Homo sapiens: one gene and its partners. The protein of the gene in region 1 purifies or fractionates together with the protein of each later gene. This does not show direct contact. Each region holds a gene or a part of one and is shown in the gene's direction. Other genes may lie near its edges.

Region 1 (7,027 bases):
AACTACTTGGGAGGCTGAGGCAGGAGAATCGCTTGAACCCGGGAGACGGAGGTTGTAGTGAGCTGAGATCGCGTCACTGCACTCCAGCTTGGGTGGCAGAGCAAGTCTCCATCTAAAAAATAAAATAAAATAAGAATCCGTATATGGTCCATATATTGCAATTGGTTGATGTATGTCTTAAGTCTTATTTGATCTGTAGGCTCCCCATTTTTTTTCCCTCGCATTTTCAATTGTTTTTGAAGAAACTGGCTTTGAAAGAGTTTACTATAACCTGAACTTTGCTCATTGCATTCCTAAGATGTTAAACATTTTCCCGTGTTCCCTGTACTTCCTATGAATTGGTAGTTAGATGAGGCTTAATCAGATTCAGGTTGGATTTTTTTTTTTTCACAAGACGATTTCATAGGTAATGGTGTATGTTTATGTTAGGAAGTATATGGTGCCTAGTGTTCTTTCTTTTCGTGATATCAGCCACTGAATATGATTACCTAAGTTAATTCATTAGGGATTGCAAAATGGTAATTGTCTATTTCTTTCATTTTTCTTCATTAACTGTAATACTTCTATAAAGAGAAATTTCCTCACATCAACTGTTTGCTTATCCTGAGGTACAGTTTGTATAGGAAAGGCAGCATAAAAGCTTGATTTGTTTTCACCTTATATGCCAGCTTTCAGAATGATGAGTTATTTTCTTAGCATTCTCCAAAGGTGACCAGTGAGGACTGTTTTGCTTTCTCAGTATCATTATAAACTCATCGATTTAAATATATGTCTTAGGGCTGGGCATGGTCGTTCACGCCTGTAATCCCAGCATTTTGGGAGGCCAAGGAGGATGGATCACCTGAGGTCAGGAGTTCAAGACCAGTCTGTCCAACATGGTGAAACCTCATCTGTACTAAAAATACAAAAAAAATTAGCCCGGCATGGTGGCAGGTGCCTATAATCCCAGCTACTCAGGAGGCTGAGGCAGGAGAATCACTTGAGCCTGGGAAGCAGAGGTTGCAGTGAACTGAGATCGCACCACTGCACTTCAGCCTGGACGAAAGACTGAGACTCAGTCTAAATAAATAAATAAATAAATAAATGTCTTAGTCCCTTTTCTCTTGTCATAACAGAATACCATAGACTAGGTAATTTATAAAGAACAGAAGTTGATTTGGCTCATGGTTCTGGAGGCTGAGAAGTCCAAGAGCATGGTGCCAACATCTGGTGAGGGTCATTCCATGGTGGAAGGGCAGAAGGTGCATGTGTGAGATGTGAGAGAGAAAGAGAGAGAGAGAGAGAGAGAGAGAGAGAGAGAGAGAGAGAGAGAAGACTGAACTAATTCCTTTATTAGGATAGCTAACTCCCGTGATAACTAACTCCATGATAACAGCATGAAGCCACCGTTGACCTAATCACCTCTTAGAGGCCCCACCTCGCAGTGCTGTTACATTGGCAATTACGTTTCAACATGAAAGCTGGGCATGGCGGCTTACACACTTTGGAAGGCCAGGGAGGAGGATGAGGCCAGGTATTTGAGACCAGCCTGGGCAACACAGCAAGATCCTGTCTCTACAAAAAATTTAAAAATTAACTGGGTGTTGGTGGTGTGTACCTGTAGTCCCAGCTACTCAGGAGGCTGAAGTGGAAGGATCCTCTGACCCCAGGAGTTTTAGGCTGCAGTGCACTATGATAGTGCTACTGCCCTCCAGCCTAGTTGACAGAGCAAGGCCCTATCTCTGAATAAATTAATACATTTCATCATGAGTTTTGGAGGGGACGTTCAAACCATAGCAATATATTTCAATGTAAGTTTTAATCCATTATAGTTCTTATCATAATTGATGTTCAGTTTATCCTAACTTTAGTTAATAGGTGATCTTTCAAGTTGACTCCTGAGGTCTTTTTAAAAAAGTTTTATGGCCAGGTGTAGTGGCTCACGCCTGTAATCCCAGCACTTTGGGAAGCCGAGGGGGGTGGATCACCTGAGGTTGGGAGTTTGAGACCAGCCTGGCCAGCATGTTGAAACCCCATCTCTACTAAAAATATAAAAATTAGCTGGGCGGGGTGGCACATGCCTGTAATCCCAGCTACTTGGGAGGCTGAGGCAGGAGAATCGCTTGAACCCTGAAGGCGGAGGTTGCAGTAAGCCAAGATCACACCATTGCACTCCAGCCTGGGCAAAGAGAGCGAAACTCCATCTCAAAAAAAAAAAGAAAAAGAAAAAGTTTTATTTATTAGAAACATTCATTGTCATTATAAATAAGCTTTGTTAAAGGTTGTTAATTCAATTTCCAAATGAGCTGTAAATGGTTTTCATTAGAGAGACTACTTGATTTGTTATTTTCAAATAGCAAATTTTTGCCCACTGGGGTTATGTAACCCATATATTAAAATTGGAAGATCATTCTTTTATTCTTGGCATCTATGCTGTGCAGTGTTTGATTTGTTCTCTGATTTGTCTTCACTCTTTATAAACACTGAAACGGCCAGGCGCGGTGGCTTACGCCTGTAATCCCAGCACTTTGGGAGGCTGAGGAGGGCGAATCACGAGGTCAGGAGATCGAGACAACCCTGGCTAACATGATGAAACCCTGTCTCTACTAAAAATACAAAAAAATTAGCTGGGCATGGTGGTGGGCGCCTGTAGTCCTAGCTACTTGGGAGGCTGAGACAGGAGAATGGCGTGAACCTGGGAGGCAGAGCTTGCAGTGTGCCAAGATGGTGCCATTGCACTCCAGCCTGGGTGACAGAGCGAGACTCCGTCTCAAAAAAAAATAATAAATAAATAAATAAACACTGAAACGAAATGCATAACCTCTTAAGACATGCATTCATGTGAATCATTAAAGAATGTTTGTCTTTGTGGCAGTTTATCATTTTAATAATTCACATTCCTTCTTAAAATGTTAAAATGTCTGCTCTTCAAAATAGACTGCAGTGAAAGGCATGAGAAATGCTGTGGGTCATTGATGGAAACCATAATTGTCCTTAGCTTTTGTCCCATGTTAACAGACTCTCAGGGTGTTAGATCATAACATACCACAGAATTACCAATACACTGCCCTCAAAGTCAGGAAAATTTTATTTATTTATTTATTTTATTTATTTATTTTTTTTTAAAAAAAACATGGTCTTATTCTGTTGCCCAAGCTGGAGTGCAGTGGCATGATCATGGCTCACTGCAGTCCCGACCTCCTGGGCTCAAGCAATCCTCCTGACTCTGCCTACTGAGTAGCTGGGACTACAGGTGTGCACCACCATGCCCAGCTAATTTTTTCTTTTTTTGTAGAGATGGGTGCATTTTAAAAAGATATAATTCACATACTATAAAGTTCACCGTTTTAGTATTTATTTATTTATTTTGAGATAAGAATCTTGCCCTATTGCCCAGGCTGCAGTGCAGTGGCCCGACCTCAGCTCACTGCAACCTCTATCCCAGGTTCAAGTGATTCTCCTGCCTCAGCATCCTGAGTAGGTGGGACTGCAGGCACGTCCCACCATACCCTGCTAATTTTTGTGTTTTTAGTAGAGACAGGGTTTCACCATGTTGGCCAGGCTGGTCTTGAACTCCTGACTTCAAGTGATCCACCTGCCTCCGCCTCCCAAAGTGCTGAAATTACAGGCATGAGCCACCACACGTAGCCCCATTTAAAAAATATACAATTCAGGGTCATTTTGTACATTTACAATGTTGTGCAAGCATCATTGCTACCTATATATAGTTCCAGAACATTTTCATCAACCCATTAGGCAGTCACACCTCATTTCCCACTACCCCTGGCTCCTGGCAACCAGTAAACTGCTTTCTGTCTCTGTGGATTTGCCTCTTCTGGGTATTTCATATCATTGGAATCATATAATATGTAGCCTTTTCTGTCTGGCTTCTTTGACTTAGCATAGTATTTTCATTATTCATTCATGTTTTAGCATGTATTAATACTTCATTCCTTTTTTAAAAAAATTAATAGACTTTATTTTTTAGAGCAGTTTTAGGTTTACAGAGAAATTGGGCATAAAGTACAGAGAGTTCTCATATACGCTTACCTTCCTTGCACCTCTCCCCACCCACCCCGTTTCCCTTAATTTTAATATCTTGCATTATTGTGATATATTACAATTTATGAACCAATATTGATGCGATTATTAACTAAAGTCCATAGTTTACATTAGAGCTCATTTTTTGTGTTGTACAGTTCTATGGTTTTTGACAATTATGTCGTGTCCACCATTATTATTATTATTTTTATTTATTTATTTTTTTGAGATGGAGTCTCACTCTGTTGCCCAGGCTGGAGTGCAGTGGCGTGGATCTCGGCTCACCGCAAGCTCTGTCTCCCAGATTCACACCATTCTCCTGCCTCAGCCTCCCGAGTAGCTGGGACTACAGGTGCCTGCCACTGTGCCCGGCTAATTTTTCATATTTTTAGTAGAGACCGGGTTTCACCATGGTCTCGATCTCCTGACCTCGTGATCCGCCCGCCTCGGCTTCCCAAAGTGCTGGGATTACAGGCGTGAGCCACCGCGCCTGGCCGTCCACCATTATTTTTTATTTTTTGAGGCAGAGTCTTGTTCTGTTGCCCAGGCTGGAATGCAGTGGCACGATCTCGGCTCACAGCAACCTCCGCCTCCTGGGTTCAAGTGATTCTCATGCCTCAGCCTCCCAAGTAGCTGGGACTGCAGGCGTGTGCCACCATGCCTGGCTGATTTTTGTATTTTTAGTAGAGACGGGGTTTCACCATGTTGGCCAGGCTGGTCTCGAACTCCCAACCTCAGGTGATCTGCCTGCCCCAACCTCCCAAAGTGCTGGGATTACAGGCATGAGCCAGCGTGCCTGGCCAGTCGTGTCCACCATTATAATAACAGTTTTACTAACCTAAAAATCCCCTGTGCCCCACCATCTGTTTATCCCTCCCTCACCCCAAACCCCTGACAACTATCAGGTGAAATTCACCCCCGATATTTCACGTAGGCTCTTTTCTATTTTCCCTAAGTGTCGGCCGGCCTGAGAAATAAAGGGACAGAGTACAAAAGAGAGAAATTTTAAAGCTGGGTGTCTGGGGGAGACATCACATGTCAGCAGGTTCCGTGATGCCCCCTGAGCCATAAAACCAGCAAGTTTTTATTAGTGATTTTCAAAAGGGGAGGGAGTGTACGAATAGGGGGTGGGTCACATAGATCACATGCTTCACAAGGTAATAAGATATCACAAGGTAAATGGAGGCAGGGCGAGATCACAGGACCACAGGACCGGGGTGAAATTAAAATTGCTAATGAAGTTTCAGGCACGCATTGTCATTGATAACATCTTATCAGGAAACAGGATTTGAGAGCAGACAACTGGTCTGACCAAAATTTATTAGGTGGGAATTTCCTCGTCCTAATAAGCCTGGGAGCACTACGGGAGACCGGGGCTTATTTCATCCTACAGCTGTGACCATAAAAGACATCTGCCCCCAAAGCAGCCATTTTAGAGGCCTCCCTTCAGGGATGCATTCTCTTTCTCAGGGATGTTCCTTGCTGAGAAAAAGAATTCAGCGATATTTCTCCTGTTTGCTTTTGAAAGAAGAGAAATATGGCTCTGTTCCACCTGGCTCACCGGCAATCAGAGTTTAAAGGTTATCTCTCTTGTTCCCTGAACATTGCTGTTATCCTGTTCTTTTTTCAAGGTGCCCAGATTTCATATTGTTCAAACACACATGCTCTACAAACAATTTGTGCAGTTAATGCAATCATCACAGGGTCCTGAGGCAACATACATCCTCCTCAGTTTACGAAGATGACGGAATTAAGAGATTAAAGTAAAGACAGGCATAGGAAATCACAAGAGTATTGATTGGGGAAGTGATAAGTGTCCATGAAACCTTCACAATTTATGTTCTTCTGCCATGGCTTCAGCTGGTCCCTCTGTTTGGGGTCCCTGACTTCCCGCAACAGACAACCACTGATCTTTTTTTTTTTTTTTGAGACAGACTTTCGCTGTTGTTGCCCAGGCTGGAATGCAGTGGCACGATCTTGGCTCACGGCAGCCTCCACCTCCCGGGTTCAAGCGATTCTCCTGCCTCAGCCTCCCGAGTAGCTGGGATTACGGGCATGTGCCACTACGCCCAGCTAATTTTGTATTTTTAGTAGAGACAGGGTTTCTCCAGGTTGGTCAGGCTGGTCTCAAACCCCCAGCCTCAGGTGATCCGCCCGTCTCGGTCTCCCAAAGTGTTGGGATTACAGGCGTGAGCCACCGCACCCGGCCCAACCACTGGTCTTTTTATTGTTGCCTTTTTCAGAATGTCATATAGTTGGAATCATATAGTATGTAACCTTTCAAACTGATTTCTCTCACTTAGCAATATGTATTTAAGGCTCCTCCATGTCTTTCCGTGGTTAATAGCCCATTTCTTTTTATTGCTGAATAGTATTACACTCTGTGGATGTACCATTGTTTGCTTATCCATTTACCTATTGAAGGACATCTTGGTTGCTCCCAAGTTTTGGTAATTATGAAGAAAGCTGCTGTAAACATTCATGTGCAGGTTTGGGTGTGGACATAAAGTTTCAACTTGCTTGAGTAAATACCAAGGGATTTACTTGTGTTTAGCTTTGCAAGAAACTGCCAAGTTGTCTTCTCAGGTGGCTTCACCATTTTGTATTCCCACCCCCAATGAATGAGAGTTCCTTTTGCCCCACATCCTCACCAACATTTAGCATTGTGAAAGTTTTAAGATTTGGGCCATTCTAACAAATTTATAGTGGTATCTCATTTTAATTTGTAATTTCCTAACGATTTATGATGTTGACCATTTTTTTCATATGTTTGTTTAGTGGAGTGTCTGGTTTGGGGTTTATTTTTATTGCTTTTTAGAGACAGGTTCTTGCTATGTTGCCCAGGCTGGACTTGAACTTCTGGACTCAAGCAATCCTGTCTCAGCCTCCCCAGTAACTGAGACTACAGGTATGTGCCACTGCATCCAGTTTTTCTTTTGCCTACTTTTTTTTTTTTTATGGAAATAGGGTAATCTTACTTTGTTGCCTAGGTTGGAGTGCAGTGGTG
Region 2 (7,027 bases), on another chromosome or scaffold:
TATGTGTGGAGTCTACCAGATGTCAACAAAAGGCTAGGAAAAGTAACTGATAATATAACACAGTTCAATGCTGTCATTATCAGATTATCTACATCTTCCCTATTTCCCTACATATCTAGAAATTGACAAGTGGAATTGAACTTGCAGGAGCCAGATGTGATTAAAGAATCTGAAGAGTAAATAGTGCCCTGCTTGCAGACAGATTTATTTCCATCATTGTACAAGTCAGAGCAACTCTAATTTGTAGGACTGGGGTGGATCACAGCTGTGCATTAAAACTCAACCAAGTTCTATGAGAGAATGATGGTGCACAGCCACTATCATTCTTGATGAATTCATTGTGTACGGAAGGTGCCTTAGGGCTTAACTTTCTATTGGAGTCCAGTTGAGAAGCTAGGAAATGCTTAATGCTCAGTAAGGAACTGTGTGTTAGTTCATTGGACTAGAACCAGAAGTCCTTTTGAACAGTGACCAAGCACTAAGATTTCTATACGAAGGCAGTTTAGGAAATACTACACAAGAAGCACTGGAAGTAGCCTAGCAGTCTAACAGTGAAAGAACGGTTAAGTACGTGAGAGTAGATCCTGTTGGTGAAGGATGTAGTCATTGTAAATTATGGTTTTTTTTAAGTTTCAGCGTTATAAATCTTCATTCTTTGACTTATGCTGTGCAAATTATTTAATCTTTAATACCTAAATCACAATGGCAGGAATAAAAAGATGTTACGTTTAAACCATTAAACACTTAGAAGGTGCTCAGTAAATGGTGAATATATGTTTATTACCATGTATCAAATGAAAAAATAATTTGTTAAATTGTTTCAATGGAGGCTGCAAAATTATGTATATATGCCATGATTACAAACCTTTTTCTTTTTAGAGACAGGATCTTCCTCTGTCACCCAGGCTCATATGCAGTGGCATGATCATGGCTTACTGCAGCTTCAAACTCCTGGGCTCAAGCAATCCTTTCACCTCAGCCTCCCAAGTAACTGGGACTACAGGCACATGTCACCTTGACTGCTAATTTTTTTTTTTTAATTTATTGTAGAGACAGGGTCTTGCTCTGTTGCACAGGCTGGTCTCAAACTCCTGGCCTCAAGCCGTCCTCCCACCTTGGCCTCCCAAAGTGCTGGCATTACAGGCATGAGCCACCACACCTGGCCTACAAATATATATTTGTATATTATATGTATTTTGGATGTGTATATACACATATACACAAATAAGAAAAGACAAAAGAGAATGCTTTTGTCTTTTCTTATTTTGACACTCTAATGCCAGCCATGGCTGTTAAAGAATGATTTTAATAAAATACACTGTACTTGTTCACTGGCTCTATTTATTTACCATCTTTTGTTCCCCCAGAAAATTGATATGTTGACATTAAAATGCCATGTTTGTAGAGAAATTAAGTTGTAGTTGTTGGCACATGTTTAGTATGCATAATCACAGAGTTAACTTTAGCTTTGAATTTAATTTAATTTTCTTAAACAGCAAAAAATGAAAATTGCCTGGGGAGTTACTTAAAGAAATACAGGATTGAGAATGAAAAGTTTCTCCTACAAGGATTAGAAAGCGTGTTGCTATGAAGTAGTGATAAAACATTCATCTACAATGCCTTTTCCCTTAATTTTAACAGCGGAAACATCTTGGAAATATATTTATTTTTCAATTAGGCCAAAATACCTTACCTCAAAGATAACCTCTCACTTTAAAAGTCATATTCCTGTGATTTGCATGTGAGTAAAAACCATCATATTTTAGTGGGCTTCAGGAAGCTCTTAAATTTTAAAACATGGGCCAAATCTCAGGTAAGCTATATTCATTAATAGTACATAAATTTCTTGAGAATTACATGTTTCTTAGTTGTTCTGGGAAGTGCACTGGTACTGGCAGGCTGCTAGGCCCTGCAGCATGCTGTGTAGTTGAAGATTTTATGCTGTTTCTCACATGAATTTTACCTAAGCACAAAGTTGCCAGAGTATGTAGACTTAAAGCAGGGTAGGATTCTTAGCCTCTCCCTGGTACTGAGACACAAAAAGTACCTCTTATAGCTCGATTTTTTTTAAGTCCCAACTCTTCCCTTTTAACCACTCTCCCTTGTTCTGAAAATCAGATCAGTCACTTTGAAAGTTCTAAGAACCTTTTCCCTTGGTTGAGTACTGACCTGGGTTGTCCATCATTAGTAACACCCTCCCAGTGGAGTAGGTTTGGTTTTGGCCTGGCACAGGAAAATTAAGACATATTTTAGTTCCTGTAACAGCAGCTTCCCAGGCACACAGGTTCCTGTTGAATGTTACTTTTCCCTTAAAGAGTCCTTCAGTATGAGATGTGAACATCAGCAACTTGGTGATAAGTAGACCAATCCCCACGAATTGCTTTCATTTACTGTATTTAAGTGTTTCCTGCTAAAAGTTGAGAAAATAAGAAAATAGATGACTTTGTAAAACCAAATTAGATAATTTAGAAAACCACTTGGAGATAAAAAAAATTATATATTTGGGGCTGGTAAACGGAGTAGTGTGACAGACACATTTGTTTTGTTTAGATCATGCAGTGGTGTGCCCATCTGTGCCTTTGATCCACTCAGATTAAACCAAGACCACGTTTCAGATTTTAGTTCCCGCGGATATTTTCCATGGCTATGCCTTTTTTTTTTTTTTTTTTTTTTTTTTGAGACAGAGTCTCACTCTGTTTCCCAGGCTGGAGTGCAGTGGCATGATCTCGGCTTACTGCAGCCTCCGCCTCCTGGGTTCAAGCGATTCTCATGCGTCAGCCTCCGGAGTAGCTGGGATTACAGGCGCATGCCATCATCCTCAGCTAATGTTTGTATTTTTAATAGAGACGGGGTTTCACCATGTTGGCCAGGCTGGTCTCAAACTCCTGACTTCAAGTGATCCTTCCACCTTGGCTGACCTCAAGTGATACTTCCACCTCGGCCTCCCAAAGTGTTGGGAATATAGGCATGAGGCACCAGGCCCAGCCAGGCTATGCCTTTTTAAAATAAACTTACAGAAAGCTATTTTTATTTGACAGTAAGTGATTAATTTCTTCAGCATGCACATAGGAAAATATGGTGAAAATTTACATGTGGTTGATAAGAAAGCTAGCTTTTATTGACAATCACTTAGAACAGGGGTCCCCAGTCCCTGCGCTACAGACTGGTACTGGTCCATGGCCTGTTAGGAACAGGGCCTCACAGCAGGAGGTGAGAGCAGCAGGCAAGCCAAGCATTACCACCTAAGCGAGCTCCACCTCCTGTCAGATCATCAGGGGCATTAGATTCTCATAGGAGCACAAACCCTAGTCTGAACTGCAGGTGTGAGGGGCTAGTTTGTGCACTCCTTATGAGAATGATGCCTGATGATCTGTCACTGTCTCTCATCACCCCTAGATGGGGCCATCTAGTTGCAGAAAAACAAGCTCAGGGCTCCCACTGATTGTATATTTTGATGAGTTATATAATTATTTCATTATATATTACAATGTAATAATAGAAATAAAGTGCACAATAAATGTAATGCATTTGAATCATTCAGAAACCATTCCCCTTATCCGTGGAAAAATTGTCTTCCACGAAACCAGTCCTTGATGCCAAAAACATTTGGGACCACTGCTTTAGAAGGGTAATGAGCACTTTAAAAAATAATAACTATTTCTGTAACTATTTAAAGTTGGTATTCTGTGACTCAAAAAACAAAAACAAAACCATAATCCTGCTCTTCCCTGTTTTCTCCTTCCACCCTGTGTGCTACTTCCTGCGTTGGAGGACTGCATGCCTCCTTTTCTGACAGAACCATGGGAAACCATGGGCCTTTAGAGGCCCACCTACTGGTAGTGGTTTGTTTTTTTACAGTGACATGTAATAAGAAATGTATATACACAGATACTATATATTAATAACTGAATTAAAAGTTTTACTAAACAACATTCACGTTTTTAAGTGCAGTGCATTGTTTTCTATTTAAAATGTTTAAGACATGTTGGTCTTCACATTCCAAATTGCTTTCATGCCCTTCTAAACTGGGTCTGTACTGTGTTTAAGCATGCTCATCTAGCTGAGCCCCAACCCCGACAGGGCAGGAGAGCACACTCTAGGGCCATCCATTGGGCTGGCTCTTCCAGGTGTCAGTCCTGGCCTCAGTTTACTACCAAGTCTTAGGTCGTAATATCCAGACTTTGAGACTTCACAAGCAGTCTCAAAGACTTTACTGTACAGTAAAATGTCAGTACAAGGGACTGGAGGGCCTGCAGAGCACTGCCAGCTAGAGGAGCTGATAAAGTAGGAAGGACGCACATAATGTCTTCATTATGATGTACTCTCATAATCATAATAATACTTGGTATTTTTGTGCCTGGCACTGTCCTGAATGCTTTCCATGAGTTTAAATATTTAATCCTCACAAGAATCAGGAGGAGGAGGAACTGTTATCCCTGTTTCACCAGTAAGGGAATAGAAGTCAGAGAAGCCACTTAGGGTGACTGCCCTGGAGGCACAGCTAGGAAGTGGGCCAGGAATGTCGGGGAACAGTCTCCTTCCCAAAGAAGTGGGGTTGGCAACACCGACCTATTTCACACAAACTGTGATGTTTTTCTCATTTTGAGGCCCGCTGAGCTATGTTAAAACAGCATTTCTCTGGGAAACAGCTCCTCCTTGTTCTTATTTCTGTCATTGACTAGCTTAGTTTTGTTCATCTAGATCTCCTGAGATGTTGGTTTAATCCACGTTGAAAAAAATCTATGTGAGCATTTGGTGGGACTGGTGCAAGAAGCACACCCTGGGTTATTTTATGCTGGTAACACTGTTTCCTCAAGCTATGCATTTTGATGGATTAGAAATGGATTGTGAGTAAGAAAAAAAAAAGCAGTAGGATTAATAATCAACAGGAAAAACACCTGAAGGTTGGCCTTCCCAGTGAGATACTTGATTCCTTCATTGGCTCTTTGTCGTAGGCAACATGCTGGTTCCTGGGCATAGAGTTGGTGCACAAAATAGATGCTGCCCAGAAAAATAGCATTTGTAATGTGAGTGAATAGCACCATAGAGAGAAGGACAGGGAACCAACCTGGACTGAGGAGCAAGATTAAAAGGATGTTGCTAGCAGATTTTTTTTTTAAATAAAGAGGATATTTTGAATTAGGTATAGTTTATGTGTTTCTATATAAAGTCCATAAGGTACCCTGGCAAGAATGGAACATAAATTTGTCACATGAATTTGCTAAAGACAGACTTACGAAGACTGATAAATATGAGGCTTTGAATAACAAGTTTTGTAGCTAAAAACATCATTTTCTTTTTTCAGACACCTTCAGCAGTAAACAAGATAAAACAACTTCTTAAAGATAAGCCTGAGCATGTAAGTAAAACCAGTTAATTATTCAGTAAAAAACTGAAGCTGCATTTTCAGAATGAATTTATCCCATGATATACAGTATTATTTCATTTAGGGGTTTTTATTTAAAATGTAAAATATACTCAGGATTTTTAAAAAATTCAAATAATACAAAAGGGTATTTAACTAAAAGGAAGTCATTCTTTCAACCTGACTCTTCGTCGTCATTCTTCCTTCCAAGAAGCAATCTCTTTGGTATCCTTCCAGGGATAATGTATACATTTGAAGCGGCTAGACCTGATTTTCTCAGCCTCCTCACAGTTGACACTTTAGGGCAGATTGTAGAATGTTTGACAGCATCTGTGGCCTCTGTCCATTAGATACCAGTAGTACCCCCTCTTTGCCTCAACCAAAGAATCCACATATGTGGAACCCACCGATACGGAGAGGTGACTGTATAGAGTAAAAGTATGGTGAGTACTATTTCACCAGCAGTTCCTGATTCCACAAAGCTTTGGTTGTCACAACCAAAAATGTCTCCCTGAGGGCAACCACTGGCCTAGACTGGGCTTGTTATTCCTGTGTATATCTCTTCCTACCATAAATTTTTTTGTTACACTTTGCTTTTTACCCTTAATAATGGCTTGAAGATCTTTCCATGTCATTATGTAATGATCTGCCTCCCTTTCTTGGCTGCATGTAGAGTATATTCCATTGAACAAGTTTGAGTTCTTTAACCAGTCCCCATATTAAAGGGTCGTTTTCATTCAGTGCTGCCGCAAACACCATTCAGCAACTATTTAGTGTCTGCAGTGTGCCAGGCTCATTGTTCTAGAACTGTAAGCATGGCTTAGTCCACCTACATAGGATCCATTCCTAGATACAGAATTGTTGAGTTAGGGATGTGTGTATCATCTTAATTGTACATTGTTAGTTGCCGATGGAATGCTGTAAATCATTTCAAGTAATGGATTGCAATATTTAATAATTAGACGGTGGGGTGATTTCTGGTTTCTGTTGTTAACCTACTACATTACAATGTAATGGAAGTTCTCAAACCTACCTTTTAAAATTATTAAATTTCAAAGGATATCAGTGTTCTGATTCAATTTGGATAGACCGATGAGTAGACTACAAATTGGCCTAATGAAACAAGAATTCGGCTTTGTAGAATCAGGAACTGCTGGTGAAATAGTACTTATGATACTTTTGCTGTATACAGTCACCTCTCCGTATCTGTGGGTTCCGCATACGTGGATTCAATCAACCATAGGTCAGAAATATTTGGGAAAAAAATAGAAGGTTGCATCTGTATTAAACATGTACAGACTTTCATTCTCTAAACAATACAGTATAACAACTGTTTATGTAGCATTACATTGTTACAGGTATTCAAGTCCTCCAGAAGTTATTTAAAGTACAGGGGAAGATGTATATAGGTTATATACAAATGCAGTGCCATTTGCATAAGGGACTTGAGTATCTGCAGATTTTTGTATACTCAGTTAGTCCTGGAACCAATTTCCCATGCATACTAAGGGATGACTGTATTTAAATGAAAAATCAGCTCAGCTCTAAGACAGAGAACTTAGGTAGATACTGTTTGAAAATTGCATTAATGTAAACATTGATACTTTTAAAGTGCTGTTTGGTCACTTTTTTAAACTTCTTTTGTCTGTATTGACTGCAGTC
Region 3 (7,027 bases), on another chromosome or scaffold:
GCAGAAGTGAATTGGAAACCGTTACAAATGGAATTGGAACAAATTTAAAGTTAAGATGGAAGAGAGAATATGTTGAGTTTTCAGAGGAAGTCGGGTACTGCTTCCTTTTCTTGTCTAGGTTTGTTCTTGTCCGATGGGATCAGAGAGATTTGAGATGGGGCATGATAGGCGGCGGGTTCAGGAGAAAGGGAAGCTTTAGAAATGAAGGTAGAAAAGATGCTTGCTTATTGGAACAGTATTTTCAACGTTGAGCTCTGGAATGTTGCAGCCAACTAATGGTTCTCATTTGGGACAGTTTTGTCCCCCACTTTTGAAGGGAGCATTTGCCAATGTCTGGAGACATTTCCCTTCCTGCAACTGTTAAATTAGCAAACAGGTTGAGCCAGCTGGGTGTGGACCTGCATTTTCCTCGTGGAGGCCCTCTTCCAAGTGTCAGTAGGAAAAGGGCTCCCAGAGTGTGGTCCTGCTGCGGGACCTTGGCCCCCACGTCCAAGTGAGCCCCAGAGGTGCCCCAAGCCCTGCCTGGTCATGGGGAATCTGGGCTCCCGCTGAACTTGGGCGCTGGGGACAGCTATGAGGGAAACCTGGTTTGCAGCTAGCTTGCCGTGCACTGACTGGAGCTTTGGGCAAATCAGTGAACTTCTCTAACATTAATTTTCTCATTGAGAGAGGAGGTGGGTAGGAGTATATATATATATATGTAATTATATATATAGGGGTCGGGTAGAGGGAGAGAGAGATTTCCCAGGCTCCTTGTATTAAAGGAGATAGAGTTATTATATTTCTCATTTAGTTTTTATTTATTTGTTTATTTTGAGACAGTGCAATTATTATAGCTAGCTGCAGCCTCAACCTTCTGGGCTTAAGCAATTCTCCTGCCTCAGCCTCCTAAGTAGCTGGGAGTACCAAATGCGCACTACCATACCTGGCAATTTTTTTATTTTTATTTTTAGTAGACACAGGCTCTCACTGTGTTGCCCAGGCTGCTCTCAAACTCCTGGGCTCCAGTGATCCTTCCTCCTTGACCTCCCCAAGTGTTGAGATTACAGGTGTGAGCCACTTTACTCAGTCGACCGACATAGAATTATTATAATGCTTGGAGCCTAACATGCCTTTTTTGTTTGTTTGTTTGTTTTTTCTGAGACGAAGTCTCTCTCACAGCCCAGGCTGGAGTGCAGTGGTGCGATCTCGGCTCACTCTGCCTCCCGGGTTCAAGCGATTCTCCTGCCTCGGCCTCCTGAGTAGCTGGGATTACAGGCATGCTCCACCACACCCGGCTGATTTTTGTATTTTTAGTAGAGGTGGGGTTTCACCATGTTGGCCAGGCTGGGCTCGAACTTCTGACCTCAGGCGACCCTCCCGCCTCGGCCTCCCAAAGTGCTGGGCTTATGGGCATGAGCCATCGCGCCCGGCTAGCCTAACATGCTTATAGTTTCCTGTTTTCTGAAGTTGGGAATTGGGTCTGGAAAGGTATCACCATCAGTCACGATGGTGTCTAGTAGTTTGCTTTGTTTTTTTCCTTATCTTTTCCCTCTTACATTTTAGGGCTGTATCTATATAATTTTATTATTTAAATTACCATATGGTAAGTTTGTCTCTTTGGGTGCATTATGAGTCTTGACACATGCATAGATTGGTGTGACCACCATCATCATCAGGAGAGAGAACAATCTCCTCAGCCCAGAGATGTTCATGGCTCTGTCTCCCACAGTTCCTCCACAGTCACCCCCCCCAGCCCCGAATCTGGGGCACCCAGCCATCTGCTCTGCTCTGGAAGTCTTGGGGATCCCATCTGAATGTAACACATGGTGGAATGCCTTAGGTGAATCCATCCGCTCTTCCAGTACCACCTTTGCCTCCTCTCTCTGATGACACATGAACTTCATGCCTTTGTGTGCTTTGGCCAACCGCTTTTCTTAGAACAGCACATTTTGCACTGTAGATGTTATCACAAGCAAGGAAAAAACAGCTTTGCTCCTTAATGTAAGAAACCACAGTGGAAAAACATCAGGTGTGTTGTTGAGGCTGCTAAAGCTTTGCTCCTTTTTAAAATTTTTTAAAAATTTTTCTGGATACGTAGGTGTATATATTTATGGGGTGCATTAGATATTTTGATATAGTCGTGCAGTGTATAATCACATCATGGAGAATGGGGGTATCCATTCCCTCAAGCACTTATTCTTTGTGTTACAAACAATCCAATTATACTCTTTTAGTTATTTGCTCTTTTTTCTTTTATTTTGAGACGGAGTCTCACTATGTCGCCCAGGGTAGAGTGCGGTGGCGCGATCTCCGCCCGCAAGTTCAAGCGATTCTCCTCCTCAGCCTCCGGAGAAGCTGGGACTAGAGGCATGTGCCACCACACCTGGCTAATTTTTTTGTATTTTTAGTAGAGATGGGTTTCACCATGTTGGTCAAGCTGGTCTCAAACTCCTGACCTCAGGTGATCCACCTGCTTAGCCTCCCAAAGTGCTGGGATTACAGGCGTAAGCCAGCACGCTCGGCCTATTTATTTCCTCTTTGTTCTATGCCAGTTAGTTCTTGATGCCTCATTGTTTCAGATGGGACATTTTCTAATGTCGTGTTTTTGTTTTTGTTTTTTTGAGACAGAATTTCATTGGTGTTTCCCAGGTTGGAGTGCAGTGGCATGATCTCTCCTCACTGCAACCTCCGCTTCCCGGGATCAAGCAATTCTCCTGCCTCAGCCTCCCGAGTAGCTGGGATTACAGGCATGCACCACCATGCCCGGCTAATTTTGTATTTTTAGTAGAGATGGCATTTCACCATGTTGGTCAGGCTGGTCTCGAACTCCTGACTTCAGATGATCCACTCGCCTCGGCCTCCCAAACTACTGGAATTACAGGTGTGAGCAACCATGCCCGACCTCTGATGTCCTTTTAGAGGATGTTACCCTCACCTTTATTGCACAGTCCTACCAAAAGGTACTTCATATGTGAAATGTATCAGAAGGTTATAGTCATGGCTTTAGTTTAAAAACAGGATACATGTTCATTAAGGACCTTTGCCGTTTTCCCAATGGGTTAATCACGTAAATATAAAATAGGCTAAAAATATCAAGTTGTTTTTGCCTTTGTTGTAGAAATAAAAAAATGAATTCCTACATCTGTGTTTCTATGGAGCTGCTAACCTGTGTTTTACTCTGGGCCATATGTCGCTTTCTGTGATCTCATGACGTGGCATGTTTTCTAATATAATCCTTGTCCTGGCATTTTGGTGACTTTTGTCCTGCCTGAGGTGGTCTACCTGGTTGTGTGAAGTCACAGAACCTGTGCATGTCCTACCGTGTAGAGTTAAAGGGCTGGATGAGTGGCCTCAAGCCTTTTCCTCCCTCCCAGGTGTGAAGATTTGGTTTGGAAGATGGACCCTGCTTCAAGGTCTGGGAGGCCATGTTTTTTTCAGACTGGTTAAGGATGACGGTTTTATGTTAACTAAACATTGGGATCAAGTGACAGTTGTTTATGTCCGGTGCCTAGAGTATCAGTTTTCCCATGATTAAAATAAGCGATATTTTGGTAAACATTGATAAGTTAGTTGCGCATTTTAGTTCAGAAACCCACAGCGAGTCAGAAGGCGCTTTGTGCTGCTGGGCGCCTCTGAGTGATTCCGGGGAGTGCGGCAGTTCTCCAGCCCCAGGAGACCCTGTGAAAGAAGCACAAACAATGCTCACGGCAAAACTCACAGTGTTTATTCTTGACCTGGGTGTCTGCCTTGAATTCTTGTCATTTTTCCTATCGTGGTGGATGTAGCCGGAATGCTTTAAAGAAAACATGAGAGTTTTTTCTGCCTGTTTCCCTTGAGCCTGGAACCGATTATGACCCCAGATAGCCTGCACAGGGCTCTTTCCTTTCTGGAACACCTGCCCAGGCTAGAATATGGGAGTAGGGAGGAGGTGAGGCTCTCTCCTGCCCGGTAACCTTCCCGGCCAGCTCTCCAAGACGCTGAAACCTTCCTTCGGGTCTGTTGAAACTGCATCCCCAGCACCATCATGTCGGAGCAAGAAGAGAAGGGCATGTGTCCCCTTTAGGCTTGACTCTTTCCAATTAGGGACCTGCCTGTTGTTAGGATTTAGAGTCCATGTGAATGTGCAGTATTGTTCAGTGCTGCGAGCATTTTTGCTTGTCTGAATTTCCTGATAGAAGGGAATTTGGACAAAAAGAAGCTTATTGTACATGGTGCCATTTTATTCCTTAAATCAATAATAACAAATACTTTATTTATGTATTTTTAGAGATGGGGTCTTGCTCTGTTGCCCTGATCATAGCTCACTGCAGCCTTGGCTTTCTGGGCTCAAGTGATCCTTCTGCCTCAGCCTCCCAAGTAGCTGGGCCGACAGGCACAAGTCAGCATGTCCAGCTTTTTTTTTTTCTTTCTTTTTTTTTTTTTTTTTAATTTTCAATTTTTTTCTAGAGATTGGGTCTTGCTGTGTTGCCTAGGCTGGTCTTGAGCACCTGGACTCAAGCAATCTTCCTGCATCGGCCTCCCAAAGTGCTGCGATTACAGTTGTGAGCTACTGTTCCTGGCCAACATATACTTTAATATGGCAAGACCATATAAAATAATTTTAAGAGGCCAGGTGTGGTGGCTCATGCCCCCCAGCACTTTGGGAGGCTGAGGGGGGCAGATCACGAGGTCAGGAGATCGAGACCATTCTAGCTAACACGGTGAAACCCCGTCTCTACTAAAAATACAAAAAATTAGCCAGGCATGGTGGTGGGCGCCTATAGTCCCAGCTCCTTGGGAGGCTGAGACAGGAGAATGGCGTGAACCATGGAGGTGGAGCTTGCAGTGAGCCAAGATTGCGCCACTGCACTCCAGCCTGGGTGACAGAGCAAGACTCCGTCTCAAAAAAAAAAACAATAATTTTAAGAACTGGAGGAAAATTCAGCAGGACTGAGTCGTGATTTCAGTTTCTGGTGCACTGTGGGTAATTGGGTAATTGTCAGCCTGGATGCTTGTGCTCCTTTAGTTGTCACTGTTACCTTGTCATCTATGTGAAGATGAGAAATGAAGTTGAGTGGAGAACTGTCGCCAAAGTCTGCCATGTAAAAATCGGTAGTGCCAATGTGCAAAGGTAATTCCCAGGTGCTATAAAAGTCCAGGTGGCTTCACAGTTTCAGATTGTATTTCCCGAAAGCGTAGAGAATTGATATCCCTGAATAGGAAATTGACGTCCCTGCCATTTGGTTCATTTGGGGAACAGAATAAACTTGTGTCCTTGCCTTCAGTTCTTTTTTCAACAGAATCTTATCAAGCATTTGAATCGTACACAACTGTAATGCCAGCTCCATGTTGATAAAAACTCAAGAATTCAAAATTATAAACTTGAAAACAGCAATTGCCAACTTCTGACAGTAGCAGGAGAGTCTGGAGGACCTGTTCAGAGGAAGTCGGGTACTGTTTCCTTTTCTTGTCTAGGTTTGTTCTTGTCCGATGGGATCAGAGAGATTGAGATGGGGCATGATAGGCGGTGGGTTCAGGAGAAAGGGAAGCTTTAGAAATGAAGGTAGAAAAGATGCTTTCTTATTGGAACAGTGTTTTCAACGTTGAGCTCTGGAATGTTGCAGCCAACTAATGGTTCTCATTTGGGACAGTTCTGTCCCCCACCTTTGAAGGGGGTTTGGTTTAATTCCCAATTTGATTATGAAGAAAATACCAGATTCAGCTTGCATTTTCAAGACACAGTGGTTCTATGTCAACTTCAGCCATTTCCAGGGATCTGTCTTAGGATACTTCAAAAAGCCTAACCTTTGAGATGCACTCAGCTCATAAGTTCGTGAAAATAAGAATGAATAATCTTCCCTGTCCAGTACATGACAGAAATTATTGTAGACCAGATGAGAGCAAGGAGAGATACTTGTTGATATTACATGTCACGGGATGCTCTGTTAAATTTTATGGGACTCTGAGTGTAATTCCTTTAAGCCAGTAGTCTCTAAATTTGGGGGAAGGACAGGGGACAGAAATGACTTGTTTCAGATTTTAATTCCCAAAAGGGTCTTAGTGAGTTTCATGCCCTCTGGCAGGTGCACAGCAAGATTTATTGGGATGCAGGAAGAAATTATGAAAATGTCCATTAAGAAAATCTCTAATACTTGTAAAAAATATATTTCTTGTCCATGAAATGCATGTTACTTGAGTATTTTATATATTTAATAAATTACATGAGTTAGGAGCACCTTCTGAAAACTTTTTTGCTGAAAAGGATATATGATGAAAGAAACATTTATGATGTAGGTCCCCAAAGGCTGGAAGAGGGGGTGATACCAACGTCCCTGCCTGCAGGTAGGACACAGTTGTACTCCCCTTTCCTCTGACTTCAGCTACTAAGGTATGTGTGCGTTTGCACGCACATGTATGTGCGTTAAGTAACTTTGAGATCCACCAGCTTAAGGACTGGACATCGTTCCAGAGGTACAGGTATTAGTGATTTGACTTAGGGAAGAAAGAATATGCAATAACAGGGAACCATGCACATACTGGATCTATTGTATTTTGCGTGTTGTTTTTAAAGCTGAAAAAATGCGCTTGTTTCGGAACTAGATGACAGTACCTGTTTGCAGGTCCACAAGGAAACCTTGGAACAATGCTATGCTTTTTAAGCGTTTTATGACTGCATTGTTTTCATAATCACTGAATTCTGTTTATAAATCAGCTGATTTCATTGACGGATGCCCTCAGGGCTCTGGAGAATTAGGCGTTTTGCTGCAGAAATGGTTCAGAATTTCAAAGACATCAACGTGAGATTGTACTGGAATTGAGTTGTGATAAAAGTCCTAGGGTGCTTTAAATCTTTAAATCTGGTTATTTGTTTGTTTGTTTTTTGAGGCAGAGTCTCACTCTGTCGCCTAGGCTAGAGTGTAGTGGCGTGATCTCAGCTCACTGCAACCTCCGCCTCCTGGGTTCAAGCAATTCTCCTGCCTCAGCCTCCCGAGTTGCTGGGATTACAGGCGCCTGCCACTGCACCCGGCTAATTTTTGTATTTTTAGTAGAGACGGGGTTTTGCCAT

Evidence for each region.
Region 2: the proteins of LRRC36 (region 1) and ISCA1 purify together in Homo sapiens (affinity purification with mass spectrometry; 2 studies listed by BioGRID and IntAct, with this or other methods). This does not show direct contact.
Region 3: the proteins of LRRC36 (region 1) and TBL1X purify together in Homo sapiens (affinity purification with mass spectrometry; 2 studies listed by BioGRID and IntAct, with this or other methods). This does not show direct contact.

Annotation. Positions count from the first base shown.
Region 1 is NC_000016.10:67,329,803-67,336,829, forward strand, and holds part of LRRC36 (leucine-rich repeat-containing protein 36), read left to right. Parts: intron 1-7,027.
Region 2 is NC_000009.12:86,272,521-86,279,547, reverse strand, and holds part of ISCA1 (iron-sulfur cluster assembly 1 homolog, mitochondrial precursor), read left to right. Parts: exon of another isoform or gene 1-1,331; intron 1,332-5,305; coding exon 5,306-5,359; intron 5,360-7,027. UniProt on the Homo sapiens protein: Involved in the maturation of mitochondrial 4Fe-4S proteins functioning late in the iron-sulfur cluster assembly pathway. Probably involved in the binding of an intermediate of Fe/S cluster assembly.
Region 3 is NC_000023.11:9,468,049-9,475,075, forward strand, and holds part of TBL1X (F-box-like/WD repeat-containing protein TBL1X), read left to right. Parts: intron 1-7,027. UniProt on the Homo sapiens protein: F-box-like protein involved in the recruitment of the ubiquitin/19S proteasome complex to nuclear receptor-regulated transcription units. Plays an essential role in transcription activation mediated by nuclear receptors.